Homo sapiens: one gene and its partners. The protein of the gene in region 1 purifies or fractionates together with the protein of each later gene. This does not show direct contact. Each region holds a gene or a part of one and is shown in the gene's direction. Other genes may lie near its edges. The genes, in order: CLSTN2, NUP160, MYCBP2, UTP20, NUP85, NUP43 and UFSP2.

Evidence for each region.
Region 2: the proteins of CLSTN2 (region 1) and NUP160 purify together in Homo sapiens (affinity purification with mass spectrometry; one large-scale study listed by BioGRID and IntAct). This does not show direct contact.
Region 3: the proteins of CLSTN2 (region 1) and MYCBP2 purify together in Homo sapiens (affinity purification with mass spectrometry; one large-scale study listed by BioGRID and IntAct). This does not show direct contact.
Region 4: the proteins of CLSTN2 (region 1) and UTP20 purify together in Homo sapiens (affinity purification with mass spectrometry; one large-scale study listed by BioGRID and IntAct). This does not show direct contact.
Region 5: the proteins of CLSTN2 (region 1) and NUP85 purify together in Homo sapiens (affinity purification with mass spectrometry; one large-scale study listed by BioGRID and IntAct). This does not show direct contact.
Region 6: the proteins of CLSTN2 (region 1) and NUP43 purify together in Homo sapiens (affinity purification with mass spectrometry; one large-scale study listed by BioGRID and IntAct). This does not show direct contact.
Region 7: the proteins of CLSTN2 (region 1) and UFSP2 purify together in Homo sapiens (affinity purification with mass spectrometry; one large-scale study listed by BioGRID and IntAct). This does not show direct contact.

The regions. Positions count from the first base shown.
Region 1 is NC_000003.12:140,564,685-140,568,184, forward strand, and holds part of CLSTN2 (calsyntenin-2 precursor), read left to right. Parts: intron 1-1,368; coding exon 1,369-1,569; 3' UTR 1,570-3,500. UniProt on the Homo sapiens protein: Postsynaptic adhesion molecule that binds to presynaptic neurexins to mediate synapse formation, and which is involved in learning and memory.
Region 2 is NC_000011.10:47,782,351-47,785,850, reverse strand, and holds part of NUP160 (nuclear pore complex protein Nup160), read left to right. Parts: intron 1-787; coding exon 788-929; intron 930-2,652; coding exon 2,653-2,778; intron 2,779-3,500. UniProt on the Homo sapiens protein: Functions as a component of the nuclear pore complex (NPC). Involved in poly(A)+ RNA transport.
Region 3 is NC_000013.11:77,058,095-77,061,594, reverse strand, and holds part of MYCBP2 (E3 ubiquitin-protein ligase MYCBP2), read left to right. Parts: intron 1-293; coding exon 294-426; intron 427-1,968; coding exon 1,969-2,072; intron 2,073-3,188; coding exon 3,189-3,377; intron 3,378-3,500. UniProt on the Homo sapiens protein: Atypical E3 ubiquitin-protein ligase which specifically mediates ubiquitination of threonine and serine residues on target proteins, instead of ubiquitinating lysine residues.
Region 4 is NC_000012.12:101,384,112-101,387,118, forward strand, and holds the end of UTP20 (small subunit processome component 20 homolog), read left to right. Parts: intron 1-1,471; coding exon 1,472-1,617; intron 1,618-1,856; coding exon 1,857-2,012; 3' UTR 2,013-2,507; downstream 2,508-3,007. UniProt on the Homo sapiens protein: Part of the small subunit (SSU) processome, first precursor of the small eukaryotic ribosomal subunit.
Region 5 is NC_000017.11:75,219,179-75,222,678, forward strand, and holds part of NUP85 (nuclear pore complex protein Nup85), read left to right. Parts: intron 1-3,500. UniProt on the Homo sapiens protein: Essential component of the nuclear pore complex (NPC) that seems to be required for NPC assembly and maintenance. As part of the NPC Nup107-160 subcomplex plays a role in RNA export and in tethering NUP96/Nup98 and NUP153 to the nucleus.
Region 6 is NC_000006.12:149,740,030-149,743,529, reverse strand, and holds part of NUP43 (nucleoporin Nup43), read left to right. Parts: intron 1-959; coding exon 960-1,140; intron 1,141-3,500. UniProt on the Homo sapiens protein: Component of the Nup107-160 subcomplex of the nuclear pore complex (NPC). The Nup107-160 subcomplex is required for the assembly of a functional NPC.
Region 7 is NC_000004.12:185,405,465-185,408,964, reverse strand, and holds part of UFSP2 (ufm1-specific protease 2), read left to right. Parts: exon of another isoform or gene 1-529; coding exon 530-694; intron 695-904; coding exon 905-1,029; intron 1,030-3,005; exon of another isoform or gene 3,006-3,108; coding exon 3,109-3,185; intron 3,186-3,500. UniProt on the Homo sapiens protein: Thiol-dependent isopeptidase that specifically cleaves UFM1, a ubiquitin-like modifier protein, from conjugated proteins, such as CD274/PD-L1, CYB5R3, DDRGK1, MRE11, RPL26/uL24, TRIP4 and RPL26/uL24.

The DNA.
Region 1 (3,500 bases):
AATAAAATAGGAGTTATCATCTTCATTTACCAAGGTGGAAACCAACTAAGAAAAGAAGTAACATACTCAAATTAACACAGCCAATAGTCAAATTTAAGGTTATCTGATTCTGAAGTCTGTATCTTTCCAGTTAGCCAACAGCCCCCAGAATCTATCCATGAGTGTCAAAGGAAGCCCTCTACATCATGCCCTTTGCCCATGGGTTCTGGTTGATGATAGACACAGGCTTAGAAAAGGTAGGGGAAGATGATTACCCCAGCCTGGTCCCCAGTTTCCACCTCGGCTAGCCTCACACTCCAATTCCAAAGCCAGTGTGCTGATGTGGCTCAGTTCCTCCAAGCATGTGCTGTAGGTAAAATGCTGAGCTCAGTGCTATACAGACTCCAGAATTTCCACCTTCAAAGAGCTGAGCCTTGAGTGTAGAAAACAAGACCACTATACCTGGAGCAGTGTGAGGACAAGGCAAGAGTGTGCCTAACAAGGGCCAACCTTGTGATGTCAAAAGTCAATGACCTTGAGGAGGAAAAGCCTTCAGGACTGCAACAATCAGGGAAGATTCCTTGGAGGAGGTTGGCCTAGGGGAGACCTTGAAGAGTGGGTAGGATTTGGGGTAAGGTAGAAGGTAGGAGGTAAAAGACAATTCCTAAGAAGTGTAAGGGGAGGGGTTGGGTAGCCAAGCAAGGAGAAACAACTTTTATGACCTGGTTCATCAATGCAGAACATAAATCCAGAAATGAAATTTTGCTGGAATTATCCAAAAGCTGGAGGGAGGGGGAATTGGACTGGAAAGGAAGGGGTACAGCCTGAGGACACAAGTCAGGGGGTGAGCAGCAAGCATGGAAAGTGAGGACCAATAAATTTGTCCTTTCCAAAGGAATATTTTTGAGGGGAAGCATACCTGAGTCTTTGCTTAGAATGCCTTCTGCTCCCAGGGACATTGCATGCACACTTGGAAAAGAGACACAAGATCAAATGTCATCCTCTCACTGAGAAGCAAACACTAAGGCTTGGACAGCTCCATTTAAATAAGCTCCAGAAATGCCTGAAAACAAGCCTTGGCCTGAAAGGTTCAGTAAATGATGGATAGGATTGGCTAAAATGTCCAGCCCATCATTTATACCCAACAGTCTACCTTGAGTTCATGCCTTGGAATTTGCTATTTCAGGCTTTTGCCTTGAACCTTCTAGCTTCCTTTTTACCAGAAGACTTCCCTTCCAGGAAGTCTGTCTCCAGGCTGAAGAGTTTTGCACTAAAAGAAGAAATTCCAAGGGGCCGTAAATGTTTCCTTAATGGATGGAGAGACATAAGCTCCAAAATGGCCTCTGTTCAGCCCCTGATGAGCATTTGCTTTTTCTCCTTGATATCCAGAAACATGAAGGACCAGGGCATGGGGAAGATGAGACTGAGGGAGAAGAGGAGGAAGAAGCCGAGGAAGAAATGAGCTCCAGCAGTGGCTCTGACGACAGCGAAGAGGAGGAGGAGGAGGAAGGGATGGGCAGAGGCAGACATGGGCAGAATGGAGCCAGGCAAGCCCAGCTGGAGTGGGATGACTCCACCCTCCCCTACTAGTGCCCAGGGGTCTGCTGCCTGGCCCACATGTCCCTTTTGTAAACCCTGACCCAGTGTATGCCCATGTCTATCATACCTCACCTCTGATGTCTGTGACATGTCTGGGAAGGCCTTCTCCAGCTTCCTGGAGCCCACCCTTTAAGCCTTGGGCACTCCCTGTGTTTCATCCATGGGGAAGTTCCAAGAAGCCCAGCATGGCCATCAGTGAGGACTTCAGGGTAGACTTTGTCCTGTAGCCTCCACTTCTGCCCTAAGTTCCCCAGCATCCTGACTACCTGTCTGCAGAGTTTGCCTTTGTTTTTTCCTGCAGGGAAGAAGGCCCACCTTTGTGTCACTCACCTCCCCAGGCTCAGAGTCCCCAAGGCCCTGGGGTTCCAACTCACTGTGCGTCTCCTCCACACAGACCAGTAGGTTCTCCTATGCTGACTCCAGGTTGCTTCATACAAGGAGGGTGGTTGAACTTCACACACGTAAGGTCTTAGTGCTTAACAGTTTAAAGGAAAGTCCTTGTTGAGGCAGAACTAAGTTTACAGGGAAAGGTACACACATTCTCTCTCTCTCTCTCTCTCTGTCTATCTAGTTCCCCAGCTTGGAGAGCCTTTCCCCTTGCTTCTTTCTGAGGCCATATAAGCTTATAAGAAAAGTCCCAAACCAAGAATAGGTCCTTGGCCACAAGCAGGGTCTGATCCCCCATCAGAGCTATCTGAGCCTGCCTGTCTGGGCACCTGCTGCAACCATGCAGCTACCCTGCCAGGGGCACTCAGCAAACAGAACCACAGGGCCCAGGAGGCATTCCACACAGGCACTGCCCCAGGACAACACAACAAGGACAGTCACAACAAGGACAACAAGGACACAACACAACACACAACAAGGACAGTCACAACAAGCCTAGAGCCAGAAAGCAGATGGAAATGCTAATGAGGTCAAACGTAGGCTTCATGGTGGGTGGAGTGGGGGTGGCTGGGCTCCCCCAGGACAGAGGGGACCCTGAGGTTGGCAAGGCTCTCACCACTCAGCCTTATGGTCCCTTATCTCCTATCTTCCCTCTTGAGAAAATACACGCTTTCTGCATGTATTAGAAACGCACGAGCTCCACCAAGTCTACAATGAAAGTTTGAAATTTAACTGCAAGGAATTAGAAGCATATTTGCAATCATTGCAGCTTCTTCTTTCTTCTGCTCATAAAAGGAGGAACACTTTAGATAGAGGGCAAATATATCTGAAAACCTAATTTCTTTCTTTTTTTGATAAGGAAATCTTTTCCATCTCCATCCTAACATGCACAACCTGTGAAGAGAATTGTTTCTATAGTAACTGGTCTGTGATCTTTTGTGGCCAAGAGAATAGCAGGCAAGAATTAGGGCCTTGACAGAATTTCCACGAAGCTCTGAGAACATGTTTGTTTCGAATGTCTGATTCCTCTTTGTCATCAATGTGTATGCTCTGTCCCCATCCTTCACTCCTCCTCAAGCTCACACCAATTGGTTTGGCACAGGCACAGAGCTGGTCCCTAGTTAAGTGGCATTTATGTTAAAAAAAAATAGTTCAGAATCTCAGCCTTTTCTTTGTGTCATCAAAACAGCTTAAGAAGGGGACTACTGCCAATGTCCTCTAGTCTGACCTCCACCCAGGGAGGACCCATGGCAGGTCTTTTCAACTTTCTGATTCATGAGAACAACCTTGTGAAGCTTTTCCCACCTCCTAAAGTGTTTTCTGCATCTGTTCCTTCCTTTGGACCTCACAACAAATCCTGTGAAGTAACTGAGACATCTGTTGTTAGATACATTTTTGTGATGAGTAAACTGAGGCTTCGTGATTCAATGTCTTGTTCAGAGTCATTCAAAAGTATAGACAAGACCAGTCTCCCCAACTTCCACTCCTGGTGCAGGATTCTACTTATGTTCATAGGTATGCACCTAACAGACACT
Region 2 (3,500 bases), on another chromosome or scaffold:
TAGCACTTTAGAATTTGGAAGTTCTCTGACATTAGTTTTCAACCCCTAAATTAGCACATCAGAATAACTTATTAAAATACAGATTATGAGAAATCACCCTAGTCTTCTAAGTTAGAACTTCTGCATGATTCTAATGCTTGATCAGGTTTGAGAACCAGTGTTCTGAACCAGTTTCTTGTTTTAGAAATGCAGAAACAAAGGAGTTAAATGAATTATGCATTAATAGCCAAACAAATAACGTTCATTTACTAAATATGTTTGTTTACTAAATACTAAATACGTTAGTGGGAGAGGAATATACGAACCCAAGACATCTAGTTTCTAGTGCTATCCCCATAAGTCACATTAGCCCAAATAATATTTGTTCCCATTTAGCTATATTATTGATTCAGTTGTTAATTTCTAAAGTTTTCCTTGTAAGGCTGGGCATGGTGACTCCTGCCTGTAATCCCAACACTTAGGGAGGACAAGGTCAGAGGATCACTTTAGCTCTGGAGTTTAATACCAGCGTGGACAACATAGCAAGTCCTTGTCTCTACAAAACATAAACAAAATTAGCTGGGCATAGTGGTGCATGCCTGTATTCCCAGCTATTTAGGAAGCTGAAATGGGAGAATCTGGGGCTGAGGCTGCAGTGAGCTGAGATCACACCACTCCACTCTAGCCTGGGTGACAGAGCAAGACCCTGTCTGAAAAAAAAGTTTTCCTTGTAAATACATGCTTTGAATGGTACTCTAAATAGCTATTAAGAATCTGAAACTCATTAGTCATTTTTGTTTTTTTCAAGTGCTACAGATGAAGCATGGCGACTATTATCCACTTACCTGGAGAGGTACAAAGTCCAGAATAACTTGTATCACCACTGTGTAATCAACAAGCTCTTGTCTCATGGAGTGCCTCTGCCTAATTGGCTTATAAACAGTTACAAGGTAAACGGATTATAACTTGTACAGAGTAAGAACCCACTCTTTATCATTCTGGATAACTTCATGAGATGATTAAAAATATGGACTGATTGCAGTGGCTCATACCTGTCATGCCCGCACATTGGTAGGCCAACAGGGGAGGATGGCTTGAGCCCAGGAGTTTGAGACCAGCTTGGGCAACACAGGGAGACCCCATCTCTATTTAAATTTAAAAATATATAAAGAAAAAGAAAAAGATGGGGTGATAACTTATGGGAACATATTGACTTACGTACTTTGGGAAGCTTTTCATCATAGCTAAAACCATAAGAACAATTCAAATTCATTTCCACAGTACTACTGTGTATTTAGATTTGAAGTTTCATAGGTTAGTAATTAGGTTAATGACTCCTATTATATTCACTGAACAATGAGTTTATATTTAGAACAATGAGCATATGCATGACACAGGATTTACTCTTCATACCTCAAAAAAGTCACAGGAGTCGGTGGAGTACTTTTCAAATAATATAACACTATGGCTGGTCTGAGTGCCGTGTTGTTTACAACTAATTGAGCACAACCAGTTTCCGATTGGTTCCTTCTCCACTCCCACTGTTTCACCTATTAAAAATCAAAAACGGGTTCTTAGACTGTCTGCATCAGAATTATTCAGATGGCAGTCTTCTTCAAAATACAGATTCCTCATCCTAGACTTACAGAATCAGATTATCTCAGGCTAGGAGCCAGAAATCTACATTTTAAGAAGCTCCTAATTTGATTTTGATGCATGCTAAAGTTTGAGAACTTCTGCATCTGAACCACCGTTAGTAGGATAAGGAAAGAGAAAATCTAAAGCTTAAAATCAGGAAAGTTTTTTTTGGTTTTTTTTGTTTTGTTTTGTTTTGTTTTTTTTGTTTTTGTTTTTGTTTTTTTTTTAAGGTAGAAAGGAGGCCGGGCACGGTGACTCACGCCTGTAAACCCAGCGCTTTGGGAGGCCAAGGCAGGCAGATCACCTGAGGTCAGGAATTCGAGACCAGCCTGGCCAACATGGTGAAACCCCATCTCCACTAAAAATACAAAAATTATCTGGATGTGATGGTGCGTGCCTGTAATCTCAGCTACTCTGGAGGCAGAGGTTACAGTGATCTGAGGTTGCACCACTGCCCCCAAGCCTGGGCGACAGAGCAAGACTCTGTCTCAAAAAAAATAAATAAATAGGAAAGTAGGGAAGCCAGCTAAGATGGTAAAGGTAAGATTGTGATCAAATGGGAATATAGAAAGCATGCTTAATTAATAGAGCTCTTCCAAATAGAGACTTCAGATTTAAAGCTGGTGATTCTTTGAACTTCTTTTGCATTTGTCATTCATATATTTCTTATTATGTGAATATATTGTCACTTTAGTGTTCAGGAAAAGTTTGTTGACTTTACAACTGTGGAAACTGAAGTGGAGAGAAGTTAAAATATGTCTTAGGTCATAAAACAGGGGAAGAAGGCTATTTAACAGATAAGGGCCTCCCAAACTGCCTAGAGGTAACGGCTCTTAGGGATTTAACTTTTTTTTTTTCCTAACTCCCCAGATTTGTTATCAGCTCTTATCCTAAGATACAGATGAGTAAACCAAGCCACTGGTTTAATTATATTGAGAAATACAAATGTTAGGGAATCAGCCACTCAACATTCTTTGGTCAGTACTCAAGTAGGAGGGAAATAGGTACATATTCTTAATCACTGACTTTTCACAGAAGGTTGATGCTGCTGAATTGCTTCGTTTATACTTAAACTATGACCTTTTAGAAGAAGCTGTGGATTTGGTGTCAGAATATGTGGATGCTGTATTGGGAAAAGGACATCAATACTTCGGAATTGAGGTAGGCATATACAAATGGTCCCCAATTTACAATGGTTTGACTTACGATTTTTCAACTTTACAGTGGTTTGAAAGTGATGAACATTTATGAGAAACCATACTTTAAAATACTGATGGCCGGGCACAGTGACTCATGCCTATAATCCCAGCACTTTGGGAGGCCGAGGCAGACAGATCACCTGAGGTCAGGAGTTCGAAACCAGTTTGGCCAACATGGCAAAGCCCCGTCTCTACTAAAAATACAGAAATTAGCCAGATGCAGTGGCACGTACCTGTAATCCCAGCTACTCAGGAGGCTGAGGCAGGAGAATCGCTTGAACCTGGGAGGCAGAGGTTGCAGTGAGCCGAGATCATGCCACTGCACTCCAGCCTGGGCAACAGAGCGAGACTCCATCTCAAAAATAAATAAATAAATAAATAATAAATAAATAAAATACTCATACAACCGTTCAGTTTTTCAGTTGCAGTACAGTATTCAATAAATTACACAAGATATTCAACAGTGTATTATAAAGTAGGCTTTCTGTTAGATGATTTTGCCCAACTTTATAGGTTAACGTTAAGTGTCCTGAGCATGGTTAAGTAGGCTAGGCTAAGCCGTGATGTTCATTAGGTTAGATGTATTATATGTATTTTCAACCTATGATATTTTCAACTGATAGTGGGTTTATTGGAAAACAAACCCACCATAAGTTGAGGAACATCGGTATAGGCGCATATATA
Region 3 (3,500 bases), on another chromosome or scaffold:
CTTTGTGTAGTAGGGGGAAAAAGTGGACTTTGGAATCAAAGACCTTGGTTGAGTTCACAGCTGTCTCGCTTACCATCTATAAATAGCAAGTTGTTTTATCCTTAGAAACACTTAATTTCTCCATTTATAAAAAAGGGACTGCTGTGAAGATTAAAGAGAAGATTGGAAATATTCAAAACTTCTTAGAGTGCTTAAATGAAAGCCATTATTATTATTGAATAATTAAATTTTATACTCTCCCTTTCAGAGTGATAAATAAGCATATTTTTCCCTGTTCTTTAATGAAATAATAGGTCTTCAAAGAAGAAGAAGAAGCTATAAAGGTTGACCTTCATGAAGGTTGTGGTAGAACCAAATTGTTCTGGTTGATGGCACTGGCAGATTCTAAAACAATGAAGGCAATGGTGGAATTCCGAGAACACACAGGTAAAAGGTTTAAAGATTGAGCCATGCCTTTAAAACCCACAAAAAAAGATTAAACCGTGCCAACTGATTAAACTGTGAATAATTTTGAGTGATATTCTGATGTTTAATTATGACATCATTGATCTATATATTTACTAAATATATAGAGTGTTCTATGGTGAAGAGAGCATTAGACCAAAAGTCAAGAAACCTGATTTGCCACTAACTAGCTGTGTGGTGTCGAGCAAGTCACTTAACCTCTGGAACTCATTGACTTCATTTATAAAGTGAGAGGATCACAACTAATGGGGCTCCATAGATAAAATACATTTCTATTGATAATTCCCTTCTAGTTCTGCTAGTTGTTGCCCCACAATAAAAATTGCTGCACTAGATGATCACTAAGATCTCTATTTATTATAAGGTTGTATGATTTTATGATATTTAGAGGTTTTTGTAGACCTAATGCTTCTGAAGGTGTTGTGAATGGTACTGTTTCCATTGATAGCAATAAAATAATTAACAAAAATGAATAGACATAAAACAAAAGGTAACCTATGTATGTTAAATGTATTTTTATCTCTAAAACATAGTTTTCATTTTGCTGCTTTTCTAAAGTAAATCTTGTATATTCCTAGTTCAAAGTTATGTTGAATCTTACAAATTCTCAGTTTTCAGCACATCTGCAGTCTGCCATTTGACTGACACGAACTTCCAGTGTTGGAGTTAGGTGTAAATCCGAATCAATTTAATTCTAGGGTGACTTTGCATGCTGCAAGAGCATGACCTTCTTTTCTCATAGTTGATTTCTTCCTCCTATAATCTGTCAGTGCTGTATACTGCATTAATAAATGTTCTAATGTCAAACCATCCTTGTAAACCATCCTTTTTAAATAGATTTTTCTGTAAATATTGCTGAATTCAATATATTGATATTAATTATAGTTAGATTTTTATATCTGTGTTTAAAAATCAGCTTGGTCTGTAATTTTCAAATCTTCACGTTCTTTTTCTTATTGCTCTGTTCTTGTTTTATTGATTCTGTTTCTTCTTTAAGTATTTCAAACATATTTAAATTCCTTTTCAAATTGCAGAGTTCCTGAGGTAGGAATTCTGTTTTTCAAGTTTCATACTCTGATGATAGGCTTTATACCATGCCTTATAATTTTGTTATATATAGTTAAAGATTTCCCTAACTTCTGTGTATTTTTATTTAATTTTTGGTTATCATATTTTTTATGGTATTGTGCATTTGGAGTCAGGGGCTTGTAACAGCTGCTCAGTCTGGTAACTTGACTAGAAGTCTAGTCTGTTTCTTTCACTGAAAAAAAATATTAGTCGAGAGTGTATTTGGCTTCAGATAGGTCTTTAATTTCTTTTTTTGTGTGTCATTATTTACTTTATAATTAGGACAACTTAGAAACCTTCCGTTCTAAAACTGTCAGGCTGATTTCCCAAGGATAGCAACTTATACAAACCTAGTTTGCTTTTTAAAATTTAGTTCTGTTAACATATCTAGAAAACATCCATAAGAAGGATTTTTATTTTTCTGCTTGAACCTAGGCAAACCCACCACGAGTAGCTCAGAAGCATGTCGCTTCTGTGGTTCCAGGAGTGGAACAGAGTTATCTGCTGTTGGCAGTGTTTGTTCTGATGCAGATTGCCAGGTGAGTATATAGTGACACAGGCCATCCCATTGTCCATGTTCCCCTGTGACACCTTTACTTCATACAGAAAAGAGTTTTAGCTCAGCGTCACTCCAGCTTCCTAAATGAGTGTATTACCTATGTGAAGCATCAAATGCCTTACCAAAGTTGAAGAATGGGTCAAATAAGGCTCTCAAGCCCAAACCACACTCTTTTTGTATGTTTCTCAGTTACCATGATCATATGTATTTAATATCTACTTTTGTACTAGAAACAGTTAAAAATTTATGAACTGTATTTCCTTTATCTCTTACAGACATTATTCACTTATTTCCTTAAAATACATTTTCAACATCTAAGAGTTCTTTAATCCTGAACATATATAAACATATTCTATGTTGTCCAAATGTTTTTGGTTTCTCAATTAATAAGAATGTGGATATGCTCAGAGAGTCAAAGGTACCTTTTTAAAAAAAAAAAAAATCTGCATTTTGGTGATGCGGAGAGTGGTGACTGGGAAATTATACATTGGGGAACTTTTTTTATTTTTTATTTTTTTGAGACGGAGTCTGGCTGTGTCGCCCAGGCTGGAGTACAGTGGCACGATCTCGGCTCACTGCAACCTCCGCCTCCCGGGTTCAAGCGATTCTCCTGCCTCAGCTTCCTAAGTAGCTGGGATTACAGGCGCGCGCCACCATGCCTGGTTAATTTTTGTATTTTTAGTAGAGATGGGGTTTCACCATATTGGTCAGGCTGGTCTCAAACTCCTGATCTCGTGATCTGCCCACCTCAGCCTCCCAAAGTGCTGGGATTACAGGTGTAAGCCACGACTCCCAGCCAGGAACTTTTTGCTTTATAGCTGTGCATGATGACAAATATGAAATTATAATTCACTTATCAGCATTCCCTTTATAGAGAGTGGCATTTTTTAAAAATCGCATCAAAAAAAAAAAACTTTGTTAAGAAGCCTAATTTATATTCAAACAAAGATTAGAAATAACTTTACTTTGTTGTTACTTGGCCTGCATAGATACTTCCTGTGGGAAAGTAATCTTTGGAAATTTATATAATAAGGAAAATTACCAGAATGTGTGCTTTTTTACATACTTGTGTAACATTGTAATTCATCTTTAACAGGAATACGCTAAGATAGCCTGTAGTAAGACGCATCCTTGTGGCCATCCATGCGGGGGTGTTAAAAACGAAGAGCACTGTCTGCCCTGTCTACACGGCTGTGACAAAAGTGCCACAAGCCTGAAGCAAGACGCCGATGACATGTGCATGATATGTTTCACCGAAGCGCTCTCGGCAGCACCAGCCATTCAGGTTGCCTCAGCTTTTAAAGTATTGAATGTATCCAGACATTAAGATGGGGAATATATTTGTCAAATAAACATTGATTGAGGCCGGGCGCAGTGGCTCATGCCTGTAATCCCAGCACTTTGGGAG
Region 4 (3,007 bases), on another chromosome or scaffold:
ATGTTTCTCACATAAAAGATGATGCTTTATCCTCAACATAGATTAAATAGTCAAAGAAAACTATGGTTCAGGGTAGTTTTAAACCTCATAGCACAATGAATAATAATGAATAATAAAATGTCATTACATTCTCATCTTAAAAATTATAGGCTGGGCGTAGTGGCTCACGCCTGTAATCCCACACTTTGGGAAGCCAAGTTGGGAGGATCACTTGAGCCCAGAAGTTCAAGACCAGCCTGGGCAACATGGCAAAACCCCATCTCTACAAAAGATACAAAAATTAGCTGGGTGTGGTGGTGCACAACTATAATTGCAGCTACTTAGGAGGCTGAGGTGGGGGGATCTCTTGAGGCTGTGAGGTCGAGGCTTCAGTGAGCCGTGATTGCACCACTGCACTCCTGCTTGGGCAACAGAGTGAGATACTGTCTCAAAAGAAAGATTATATGGCAAAAATATAAGTATTATCATTTTTATATGAAATAGTTTTAAAATATCATTTTAACATTTCTTCTTTTTCCTTGCCTGATACATTTCCCTCACTTATTCTAATTGTTGGTAATAACAGGTAAAGAGGGAACTGGGGGCAGGAAGGAAAGGAGGTAAAGTGAATGTTCAGAGTTTGAAAATAAAACAAATGAAGCAAATGTCAAAGCAAGAGCTTTTACAGTCCTACAACCTTGGGAGAAAGTTTCCTCACTCTTACAAAGGAAAAAGCAATGGTAAAGGTTGAGGCTGCTGACAAAAGCAGGTTCAGGTGTGCTTTGGTTCAACCCAGTCAACATTTAATGAGCATCTAATATCTGCCAGGCACTAGGGATTCAACAGCAGGAAAGTTTTCAAGAAGCTTGTGATCTAGAACAGATGTCCTGAGCTCCTGTGAAATTGAAATTGGGGGTTATTTGTATATAGGGGTGAGTGGCAGAGAAGGGTGGGAGAAATGGCTTTTTTGTCAACTTCACAAAGGAGGCTTTTGACACTCCCCCGCCAAAAAAAAAAAAAAAAAAGTTACTGTGGGCAGAGCTAAGCCTCTGTGACCCATCATGGATTAGAGAGGGAATCTCTTACTTTTCCCCCCATCTGCAAGAGCTCAACAGGTAAACAGAGGTAATTCAAAACGTTTCTGTCAAGGTCCCAAGTTACTTTAATGTCTTCAGGGCCAGGTTTCCGCTGGGAAGTGGGCCTCATGTTCTCTGATTTCTTATTGCATCCTGGGTGAGGTGGTGGCTGGAGTGCTATGTCTAGCATTGCTGGTTTCCCCATCCCAGGAACATAGAGGCTAGTTTTATATCAGTGTTTAATGTTGAAGTAACAGTGATAATGCTGCAAGAGTTGAAATTTTGTTTTGTTTTATTTGGGGTTTCTTGCCAGATCAGTAGCTGGATATAAATGTTGTACATATTGTTGATTTTGTTGATGTTCAAATGTGTCCTTTCCTACCTGTCTCTGATCATTACTCTTTGTGTGTGATTAGATCCTTTGCTGAAGAATCTATCCCAGGAAATCATAGAATTACTCAAAAAGCTGGTTGGGCTTGAGAGCTTCTCATTAGCCTTTGCCTCTGTACAGAAACAGGCTAATGAGAAAAGGGCACTCCGGAAAAAGAGGAAGGCCCTGGAGGTAAGTTTGCTCTTTGAAAATATGGCATGTTCACTGGACTTGATAACTACTAAGTGTGCATGTTTGTGTCACACTTACACTTAGGGAGGATCAAGGGTTTGAGCGGTTGGGGACTTTATAGCTGGGACTTCAGATTTTCTTTAATGAGCATGTGTTTTTTACATTTATTTCTGTATTTGATTCTTATTGGTTTAACATTTACTTTAAAAGTAATATAAAATTTCTATTCTCTTTTCCAGTTTGTAACTAATCCTGATATTGCTGCCAAGAAAAAAATGAAGAAACACAAAAATAAAAGTGAAGCAAAGAAGAGAAAGATAGAGTTCCTGCGTCCAGGATATAAGGCCAAGAGACAAAAAAGCCATAGCCTGAAAGATTTAGCAATGGTGGAGTAATGTCTCCCTGTGCTGATACAAGCATGAACTTTCTGGAATATTCTGCTAGTCTGAAATTACAGTAGGTTGTCTGGGGTAGGGGGGAGGCGTTTTTTTTTTTTTTTGAGACAAGGTCTCACTCTGTCACCCAAGGTGGAGTGCAGTGACGACATCACAGCTCACTGCAGCCTCAACCTGGGTTCAAGTGATCCTCTCACCTCAGCCTCCCAAGTAGTTGTGCCTCCTAGGCACACAACACTATGCCCGGCAAATTTTTTGTATTTTGTATTTTTTGTAGAAACAGGATTTCGCCATGTTGGCCAGGCTGGTCTCGAACACCTGGGCTCAACTGATCCGCCTGCCTCGGCCTCCCAAAGTGCTGGGATTACAGGTGTGAGCCACCCTGCTCAACCAGGTTTTATTATTTAAGTTAGTTAAACTTTGGATAGATTGTATAATATATAGTTTAATGTAATCATGCTCATATTTTTTAAATAAATAAAACACTATACTACTGCTGGGTCTTCACTGTTTAAAAAGCATGTGACACTAGTCAGAGTTTAAAATATAATTTGTAAATAAAAGGATACATTTTTAAATAGCAAGAAAAAATGTAGAAGTTAGCAATTAATCAAACAAAAGATTTGCAAATACTGCTCTATAGTACTTGCTAAAATTTTAGGAAAAGGCAGTAAGAAAGATCTGCACAAACGGAACTATAACCATGTTCTTGGCTAGGAAGATTCAGGATCATAAAACGCTACTTCTTTTTCCCAAGTTGATCCTTTGGTTAAATGTGTATCTGAGCAAAATCCCAAGAGTTCTTCACGTTAACCCAACAAGCTAATTCTAAAATGTATATGGAAGATGATATTAAGCCAAGAATAACCATGACACTCTCACAAAAGTAGAACAGGATGAGGGGCTTGCCCTATTGGATATCAAAAGTAAGACACAAAAACTATCTATAGAGAGAACGTGTAATAAATCCTACTTCATTAAGAACTTCTGCTTAG
Region 5 (3,500 bases), on another chromosome or scaffold:
AAAAAAAGAAAAGAAAAGAAAACCTGGAATTCGGCCCGGCACGGTGGCTCACAGGAAGTAGTGGGCCAAATGTTTGAGTCTCTGATTGATTCGCTAAGGTTTGTTGTTGTCGTTTAGAGACAGGGTTTCGCTTTGCGGCCTGGGCGGGAGTGCAGTGATGCGATCATGGCACAATGCACCTTTGATTTCCTGGGCTCAAGCAATCCTCCCACCTCAGCCTCCTGAGTGGCTGGGACTACAGGCGCACACCACTACGCCTGGCTAGTTTTATTTTTTGTAGAGGTGAGGTTTCACTGTATTACCCAGGCTGGTCTTGAACTCCTGGGCTCAAGCAATCCTTCCACCTTGGCCTCCCAAAGTGTTGGAACTGCAAGTGTGAGCCACCATTCCTGGTCATTCACTGAGTATTTATTGAGTCCCTACTATTTGCAAGGCACCAAGGAGACACCATGACTAAAACAGGCAAAGATTCCTGCCTTTATGGAGTTTATATCCTGTGTGTGGAGAAAGAACAGCAACACATAGGCTAGTACCATGTATCCTGGCACATAGTGAAATGCTCTGCCAAGGTGCCAAGAAGGGAGGGAGGCTGCAAGTGCTGGAGGGGCATCGAAGAAGGCCTCCCTCATGAGAGATTGGAGGTGAGACCTGAAGGAGGTGAGGAGAGCTAGGCTGAAGAAAGCATTCCAGATAGCAGGGCCTGTAGATGCTGTGTTCTAGAGCCAGGGTGGGGCAGGAGGGGCTGTGCTATGTAGGGGTAGGTGGGAGGGATGAGCTGGGGAGATAAAGACAGAGCGATACCAGGCCAGGTCTGAGACAGCCCCCTGGGCTGTCACTGAGACTTTAGCTTTTTGCAGCCTACATAGCAGGGTGACTAACAACATGGTCTGTGGTGCCACACTGCCTGGGTTAGCATTCCAGCTCTGCCTTTTACTAGCTGTGAGGTGGGTTTTTTTCCTTTTTTGAGACAGAGTCTCTCTCTGTCACCTAGGCTGGAGTGCAGTGGCGCCATCTCAGCTCACTGCGACCTCTGCCTCCGGGGTTCAAGTGATTCTTCTGCCTCAGCCTCCTGAGTAGCTGGGACTACAGGCGCGCGTCACCATGCCCAGCTAATTTTTGTATTTTTAGTAGGGATGGGGTTTTACCATATTGGCCAGGCTGGTCTCAAACTCCTGACCTTGTGATTCACCCACCTTGGCCTCCCAAAGTGCTGGGATTACCAGCATGAGCCACCATGCCTGGCCTTTTTTTTTTTTTTTAAATACAGTTTCACTGTGTTCCCCAGGCTGCAGTGCACAATCACCAGTCACTGTAGCCTTGGCCTCCAGGTCTCCAGTGGTCCTCCTACTTTAGCCTCCCAAGTAGCTGGGACCACAGACATGTGTTACCACCACCAGCTAAAGTTTTTATTTATTTATTTATTTTTTGAGATGGCGTCTTTCTCTGTTGCCCAGGCTGGAGTGCAGTGGCGCTATCTCAGTTCACTGCAACCTCTGCCTCCCTGGTTCAAGCAGTTCTGTCTCAGTCTACCAAGTAGCTGGGATTATAGGTATACGCCATGATGCCCAGCTGGTTTTTGTTTTGTTTTGTTTTGTTTTTTGTATTTTTAGTAGAGATGGGGTTTCATCATGTTGGTCAGGCTGGTCTTGAACTCCTGACCTCAAGTGATTTGCCTGCCTCCCTCCATCCCACCATCCCAATTTTTTTTTTTTTTTTTTTTTTAGCTGGAGTCTCGCTCTATTGCCCAGGCTGGAGTGCAGTGGCACGATCTCGGCTCGCTGCAAGCTCCGCCTCCCGGGTTCATGCCATTCTCCTGCCTCAGCCTCCCGAGTAGCTGGGACCACGGGCGCCTGCCACCACGCCTGGCTAATTTTTTAATTTTGTTTAGTAGAGACGGGATTTCACCATGTTAGCCAGGATGGTCTCGATCTGACCTTGTGATCTGCCTGCCTTGGCCTCCCAAAGTGGTGGGTTTACAGGCGTGAGCCGCCACGCCCGGCTAACCCAATTATTTTTTATTTTTATTTATTTATTTTTTGAGGCAGAGTCTCACTCTGTTGCCCAGGCCAGAGTGCAGTGGGGCGATCTCAGCTGGGATTATAGGCTCTCGCCATCCTGCCTGGCTCATTTTTTTATTTTTAGTAGAGATGGGGTTTTGCTGTTTTGGCCAGGCTGGTCTCGAACTCCTGACCTCAAGTGATCCGCCTGCCTCAGCCTCCCAAAGTGCTGGGATTACAGGCTTGAGCCACCATGCCCAGCCAAATTTTTTTATTTTTTGAACTCCTGGCCTCAAGCAGTCCTGTTGCCTTGGCCTCCCAAAGTATTGGGATTACAGGTGTGAGCCACTGTGCCCGGTCACTAGGTGTGAGATCTTGAGTGAGCTACTTAACGGCCTTAAGGGTCCTCATCTGTCCAGTGGAGATAATAATACCTGTCCCATGGGGCTGTTGTGATCATTAAATTAGTTAAAGGACATAAATGTGGGTGAAGTAGTTGACACGGTTGATGCACAGTAAAAGCTAGTCTTTTACTTCTAAGCCATATGGGGTGAGGGGGCATTGGAGAGCTGAGCAGAGGAAGCCTGAGATCTTACTTAGGTTCCCAAAGGCTGTCCTGGCTGCCATGTTGAGACTACAGCAAGGATGGAAACAGGCCAGTCTGGATTCTGCTGTACTAAGCCAGGTAAAAGATGGTGGTGGTGTAGGCTAGATATGTTTGAAGAGAGTTGATGGGGTTTGCTGATGGATTGATTTGATGTGGGCATGCAAGAAATAGAAGAATGTGGGAGGATAAGGTTGGTGAATTGGAGGCAAACTGGTATTTAATTTTAGACATGTTTCTCTCGTGTGTGTGTGTGTTTTGTTTTGTTTGTTTGTTTGTTTGTTTTGAGACAAAGTCTCTGTTGCCCATGTTGGAGTGCAGTGGTCAGATTACAGCTCACTGCAGCCTTGACCGCCTAAGCTCAGGTGATCCTCCCCTCCTAAGCCTCCCAAGTAGCCAGGACTACAAAGGCGTGCCACCATGTCCAACTAATTTTTGTATTTGTAGTGGAGACGGGGTTTTGCCATGTTGTCCAGGCTGGTCTCAAACTCCTGGGCCCAAGCAATCCACCCTCCTTGGCTTCCCAAAGTGTTGGGATTACAGGCGTGAGGCACCATGCCTGTCCGACATGTTACGTTTTAAGATGCCTATTCAAGATCTAAGTGGAGATGTTGACTAGGCACTTGGATATACAAAGCTGGAATTCAGACAAGGAAGTTTGGGCTAGAGAGGAAAAGTTGGGAGTTATCAGTATGTATATGTTTATATATTTGTGATTTTTTTTTTTTTTTTTTTTTTTTTTTTTGAGATAGAGTTTTGCTCTTGTTGCCCAGGCTGGAGTGCAGTGCCTTGAATACTGAATTAGTGAATATTGAACCATTGCTCCTAGGGGAAATACAGGGTTAGGTTCCTGCAAGCCTCTGGTCATATTTTGTTCAACCAATCAATATATAACCGAT
Region 6 (3,500 bases), on another chromosome or scaffold:
TCCACCTTCTGAGTTCAAGTGATTCTCCTGCCTCAGCCTCCCAAGTAGCTGGGATTACAGGCACGTGCCACCACGCCCGGCTAATTTTATATTTTTAGTAGAGACGGGGTTTCTCCATGTTGGTCAGGCTGATCTCACCTGACCTCAGGTGATCAGCCCTCTTCGGCCTCCCAAAGTGCTGGGATTACAGGTGTGAGCCACCGCGCCCAGCCAAAGGTAACCTTTTCTAATAGACATGCCTAGTTAATATAAGTCCCAGTTCATGTTAAGGGTTTTTTTGAGTCATTTAGAAAAAGCTATAGAGATTAATATTTTATTTATTTTATTTTATTTTATTTATTTATTTTTTTTTTTGAGACAGAGTCTCTCTCTGTCACCCAGGCTGGAGTGCAGTGGTGCGATCTCTGCTCACTGCAACCTGCATCTCTCTGGTTCAAGCAATTCTCACACCTCAGCCTTTCAAGTAGCTGGGATTACAGGCGCGTGCCACCACACCTAGCAAATTTTTGTATTTTTAGTAGAGACGGGATTTTGCCATATTGGCCAGGCTGGTCTCGAACCCCTGATCTCAGATGATCTGCCTGCCTTGGCCTCCCAAAGTGCTAGGATTACAGGCATGAGCGACAGCCGTGGGCCAGATATGTATATTTTAGATGTAGGTTAATTCCCATAAGAATACAAAGAGTTGCCTTTGAACATCCAACTGCTTGATCCCTAAAAGTCATTACTGTAGTTTGAGATAAATGTGGGGCATTATTAAACAATATTCCTTTTGTATCTAATTCAGTGTATATAGAACTTTGATGGCAGTAGTTTCTAGATTTCATTATTCTAAAGGAAAAAGGAGAGATTTATTCTTGTAGAAGGGTGTGAGTCAGAATTTAAAGATACTCTTGTTGGGAAGAAGTGCTAATTCCTTAGTACTTTGCTTTAATAGTATCCTCATTTCTGATGCCTAGACTCTGTCAGTCAACCAGCAGTGGACTACAGCTCACTACCACACAGGCCCTGGCAGTCCTTCCTATAGCAGTGCACCATGTACAGGTGTTGTGTGCAACAACCCAGAAATCGTTACAGTTGGAGAGGATGGTCGAATAAATCTCTTCAGAGCTGATCACAAGGAAGCTGTAAGAACCATAGGTAAGAAAAATCCCAGCCTGGCCAACATGGCGAAACCTAGTCTCTTCTAAAAATACAAAAGTTAGGCTGGGTGTGGTGGCTCACCCCGGCAATTGCAGCACTTTGGGAGGCCGAGGCAGGTGGATCACCTGAGGTCGGGAGTCCGAGACCAGCCTGACCAACATGGAGAAACACCGTCTCTACTAAAACTACAGAATTTGCTGGGCATGGTGGCACATGCCTGTAATCCCAGCTACTTGGGAGGCTGAGGCAGGAGAATCGCTTGAACCTGGGAGGCGGAGGTTGCAGTGAGCAGAGATCGCACCATTGCACTCCAGCCAGGGCAACAAAAGTGAAACTCTGTTTAAAAAAAAAAAAAGAAAAGTTAGCCAGGCGTGGTGGCGCATGCCTGTAATCCCAGCTACTCAGGAGGCTGAGGCAGGAGAATCGCTTGAACCTGAGAGGTGGAGGTTGTGGTGAGCTATGATGGCACTCTGCAGTCCCACCTGGGTGACAGAGGGAGACCCTGTTTCAAAAAAAGAAAAATCATTGTACTCCTTTCATCCATCAGAGTAATTGAGCACTTACCATATACTAAGTAAATACTGCCAGGCACGGTGGCTCATGCCTGTTACCCCAGCACTTTGGGAGGGTGATGCAGGCGGATCACAAGGTCAAGCGATCAAGATCATCCTGGCCAACGTGGTGAAAATCCGTCTCTACTGAAAATAACAAAAATAAGCTGGGTGAGGTGGTGTGCATCTGTAGTCCCAGCTACTCGGGAGGCTGAGGCAGGAGAATCACTTAAACCCGGGAGGCAGAGGTTGCAGTGAGCCAAGATTACACCACTGCACGCTAGCCTTGTGACAGAGAGAGACTTCATCTAAAAAAAAAAAGTAAACACAATGTTAAGTGATGGAGGGATGTAAAAATATATGGCCGGGTACAGTGGCTGACGCCTATAATCCCAGCACCTTAGGAGGCAAAGGCGAGCAGATCATTTGAGGCCAAGAGTTTGAGACCAGCCTGACCAATATTGCAAAACCCCATCTCTACTAAAAATACAAAAATTAGCTGGGCATGGTGGCACAGGCCTGTAATCCCAGCTGCTTGGGAGGCTGAGGCATGAGAATCGCTTGAACCTGAGAGACTGAGAGGCTGCAGTGAGCCGAGATCATGCCACCGCACTCCAGCCTGGGTGACAGAGCAAGACTCTGTCTCAAAAAAATATAAAATATATGTACACATGTGCACACACAACGCAAGGCAGGATCCCTTTGTCAAGACAGTATGTTGATGAGACCAGTATGAATGACTGACTAGAGGAAACAGAAACCTTTTTTTTTTTGGTGAGAGGGCATTATCAGATAAAACATCTGGAAGCAGGTAGTAATTAATAGTTTTTCTAGGTTCTAGACCATAAGTAATACTAAAAGATGGCGTGCTAGACAAAGGGAATAGGCCAGAGGCAGGATAAAGACATTCAGAGAATGACAAAAAGTATAGTTTGACCCGACTTTAGATATTTATTTAGGAGAGATGAAAGATGAAGCAAGAGAGAAGTAAGCTGGGGCCAGATTGCAAAGAGTCTGTAATGCAAAATCACAGAAGTTACATCTTTTAGGTGGAAAACTAAGTGTATTGGTTCTGAACTATGCTTCAGCCAGACTTCTCTGAGGAAATTTTTTAACTGTCGACCACTCTAGACCTTTTAAATCAGAATCTCTAGGAATTGAGCCCATGAATCCATTTTGTATGTGTGTGTTTTGTTTGTTTGTTTGTTTAGATGGAGTCACGCTCTGTCACCAGGCTGGAGTGCAATGGCACGACCTCAGCTCACTGCAACCTCCACCTCCTGGGTTCACGCGATTCTCCAGCCTCAGCCTCCCGAGGAGCTGGGACTACAGGCGCACGCCACCACACCCACCTAATTTTTGTATTTTTAGTAGAGACAGGCTTTCAACATGTTGGCCAGGATGGTCTTGATTTCTTGACTTTGTCATTCGCCTGCCTCGGCCTCCCAAAGTGCTGGGATTACAGGCGTGAGCCACTGTACCTGGCCTTTTGTGTTGTTTATTATGATTTTCATTTCTGAGTTAAGTTGCATTACTTTTTTTTTTTTTTTTTTTTTTTTTGAGACAGGGTCTTGCTCTGTCACCCAGGCTGGAGTGCAGTGGCATGATCCCAGCTCATTGCAACCTCTGCCTCCCAGGTTCAAGCGATCCTCCCACCTCAGCCTTCCAGGGATGTGGGACTACAGATGCACACCACCATGCCCAGCTAATTTTTGTAGAAACGAGGTTTCACCATGTTGCCCAGGCTGGTGTCAAACTCCTGGGCTCAAGTGGTCTGCCCACCTCGGCCTCCCGAAGTGCTGAGAT
Region 7 (3,500 bases), on another chromosome or scaffold:
AGTATATCAAGTCATGATATACTTTGAAAAATAAAAACATAAAGAGGACAGAGATGACAGGTGAGGCAGGGGGTGGGGTAGTGAGAGAATGAGTGGGCCGTTTGTAGACTGGATGGTCAAGGAAGACCTTTGACATCTAAATGGAAACCTGAGTGAAGTAAGAGTGCAAGCTGTACAATTAATTTGGGAAAAGAGAGTTCCAGGCCAAGAGAACCATGAGGCTCCAAGGTCATATTGCCCCTGGTATATGGGAACCGAAAGTAGAGGGAGCAATAGGGAAAAGTTTAGGAGATGAAATTGGAGAGGAGGCCAGAAGGTAGGTCCTGCTGGGCCCTGTGGTAAGGACTTTGAACCTCAAATAAAAAGCCAAGAAGGTATAATGTTAAACCATAGATCTGTGAAGGCATTTTTATAAGGAACTAAAGTAACAGTCTAACTCTAAGAACATTAAACATAATTCGGGAGCATATATAGAATATGTACTTCTATCCTAAGTTAATATTTTACTGTGTTTCTTCTCTGTATATAGATTTATGTGGTCCAGGGCATATATGGCTATCATCATTATATGCAGGATCGCATAGATGACAATGGCTGGGGCTGTGCTTATCGATCTCTGCAGACTATCTGCTCTTGGTTCAAACATCAGGGATACACAGAGAGGTCCATTCCAACACACAGAGAAATTCAGCAGGTACAGAACATACCGTTTTAAATTATAATCAACTGTATGTTTCATTAGCCCTTAATATACCATTGATAATTTTTGTTACCTCATGGTGCAGACTTATTTCTGTTTTGAAGAAAAAAAAATTCTTGTACTGGTAATCAGGGAAAATGCCCTAAACATCGTTTTTAATAGCTGTCTTGTGTATGGATGTTTTATATTTTTAAATACATCAAGGCTCTAGTCGATGCCGGGGACAAACCAGCAACATTTGTCGGATCGCGGCAATGGATTGGATCTATTGAGGTGCAGCTGGTACTAAACCAATTGATCGGTATAACGTCAAAAATCCTGTTTGTCAGGTAAGCACACTTTAAGAAATTAGATAAATCATTTCAAAGTGACAGTCTGTCATTTTAATTAAAATAATAGAAAAAATGGTATCTTCCCTTATTTCTTTTTATTCCTTTTCCTTCTTCCTTATTACTCATTGCTTTATAAATCTCATTTTTTAATCTTAATTTTTTTTCATTTTTTTTTGGAAGGCTCTGATTTTATGAATAAACTTTGTGATGTAATGTATACTTGTATTATTTAGGCCTAATTTTAGCCTAGAAGAGGAAAACTTAAAAATATATTAACGTTGAGTAAAGTCATAAAAATTATATTAACAGTTTCTTTATGCTCCAATCTTTTAAAAAGTCTTAAAAGGCAAAACTCAAATGTTGAACTATGACTGACCTTTTTGTTTACCTCCTGCTCTTTTTCTTTCTAAAACGTTAATAATCTAGTAATGTGTTCAAATAATGTATTCATTTTGTCTTTTCCAATGATCTTAACCATAATTCTAATATTAAAATGAGAAAATATAAATTAATTATTTTCTATGACCATAACTAGCTGACTCCTGATTGTATGAGCTTATGTTTTAAAATACATTTTCTAGCCAGGTGCAGTGGCTCACGCCTGTAATCGTAGCACTTTGGGAGGCCGAGGTGGGTGGATCCCCTGAGGTCAGGAGTTTGAGACCAGCCTGGCCAGCAGAGCAAAACCCTGTCTCTACTAAAAATACAAAAAAAATTAGCTGGGTATGGTGGCGCATGCCTGTAATCCCAGCTACTTGGGAGGCTGAGGCAGGAGAATCGCTTGAACCCAGGAGGTGGAGGTTGCAGTGAGCCAAGATCATGCCACTGCACTCCAGCACAGGCAACAAAGCGAGACTCCCTTTCAAAAAAAAAAAACAGAAAAATACATTTTCTAAAAAAAAAAAAAAAAAAAAAGAAAAGCCAAAAAACAAATAAAATACATTTTCTATTGTTAATTACAGTAACATCGTCCTCATTGTATCTTTTATGTGTTAAAGATGTAATTTTATCCTTTCCTCAGTGGTTATGGAAATCAGTGGTAAAAAAATGACAGACTGGCTGGGCACAGTGGCTCACGCCTGTAATCCCAGCACTTTGGGAGGCCAAGGTGGGTGGATCACCTGAGGTTGGCAGTTTGACACCAGCCTGGCCAACATGGTGAAACCCTGTCTCTACTAAAAATATAAAAATGAGCCGGGCATGGTGGCACACGTCTGTAATCCCAGCTACTCAGGAGGCTGAGGAAGGAGAATCGCTTGAACCTGAGAGGCGGAGGTTGCAGTGAGCTGAGATCGCGCCACTCCACTCCAGCCTGGGCAACAGAGCGAGCCTCCATCTCAAAAAATAATAATAATATAAAACAATGACAGACTTAAGTAGTGAAGAACTTTTTTTAAAAGTTACAGTTTTGGTACATTAAAACATACGTTCCTCATTAAGCAAGAGCTAAGGTTTAGCACCACCGGGCACCTTCCCCCAAAAAATACCTCCCTTCATTATCCCATCTATCTTTCTCTTTTCAAAAGTAAAAATTCTGAGATTCCCTAAAAATAGTATGTTGCACTTGAAAACATTTTGCAGTTTTCACATTGATTTCACAGACATGTATTTTAGGCCTAGACTCTCCTCTGTTATGTAGACAGGTCAGCGTTTTGGGTCCCAATTTAAAGATGAGGAAATACAGACTAAGAAGTCTACCAGCAAGAAGGCAAGAACCCAGGACTTAACACTCATTCTTCTGATTAATCCATCCATAAGAACTCCCTGAGCACCAAGGTGATGTTTTAACTTCATGTTAAAAACCCAGGCCTCCTTTATACAGTTCAAGAAGCAGAAAATCAAGGTCTTTTAGCGTCTTATCTAGCACACTTGGTGGCCTTAAGTATTTTGAGTTTATGTTGCTTTAAATTGCACAGTTTAATTGCTCTCAGTTCCCTAACACTTAATTTTTTTACATTTATATATTTTTTCAGTAACACCCGAAAAAACAAGAAAGTAGGAAACATTGTCTCCTAGCTCATTATTTGACCGTAGTGTTGGAAGTAGTTCATCTGATAGAAAATGGTTTCTTTCTAGCCAAGGTTCAGAAATTGCCTCTCAAGGACGGGAACTGGCTAATCATTTCCAAAGTGAAGGAACTCCAGTTATGATCGGTAAGCTGTTTCAGACACTGTTTTTGGTAGAGTGAGTAATATGCAAAACTTATCATTGATATAAATATTTAATGTTGCATAAAATCAGTCATTTAAAAAATTTTGAAATTAACTTTTACACCATATGTATGGATCTCTGGATATTGAAAAAAATTTCTAAGGTGGCTTAAAGGTTACAAAAAAGATTATAATAACCAGAAGAAGTAAAGGCTGAGAAATGGTAGCTATGTTCAAACATTTAAAGAGCTGAGAACAGTATTAAAAAGAGGAAACGGTCACTCAGCTGAGCTTCGTAAGTCATGACTCTGTCATAAC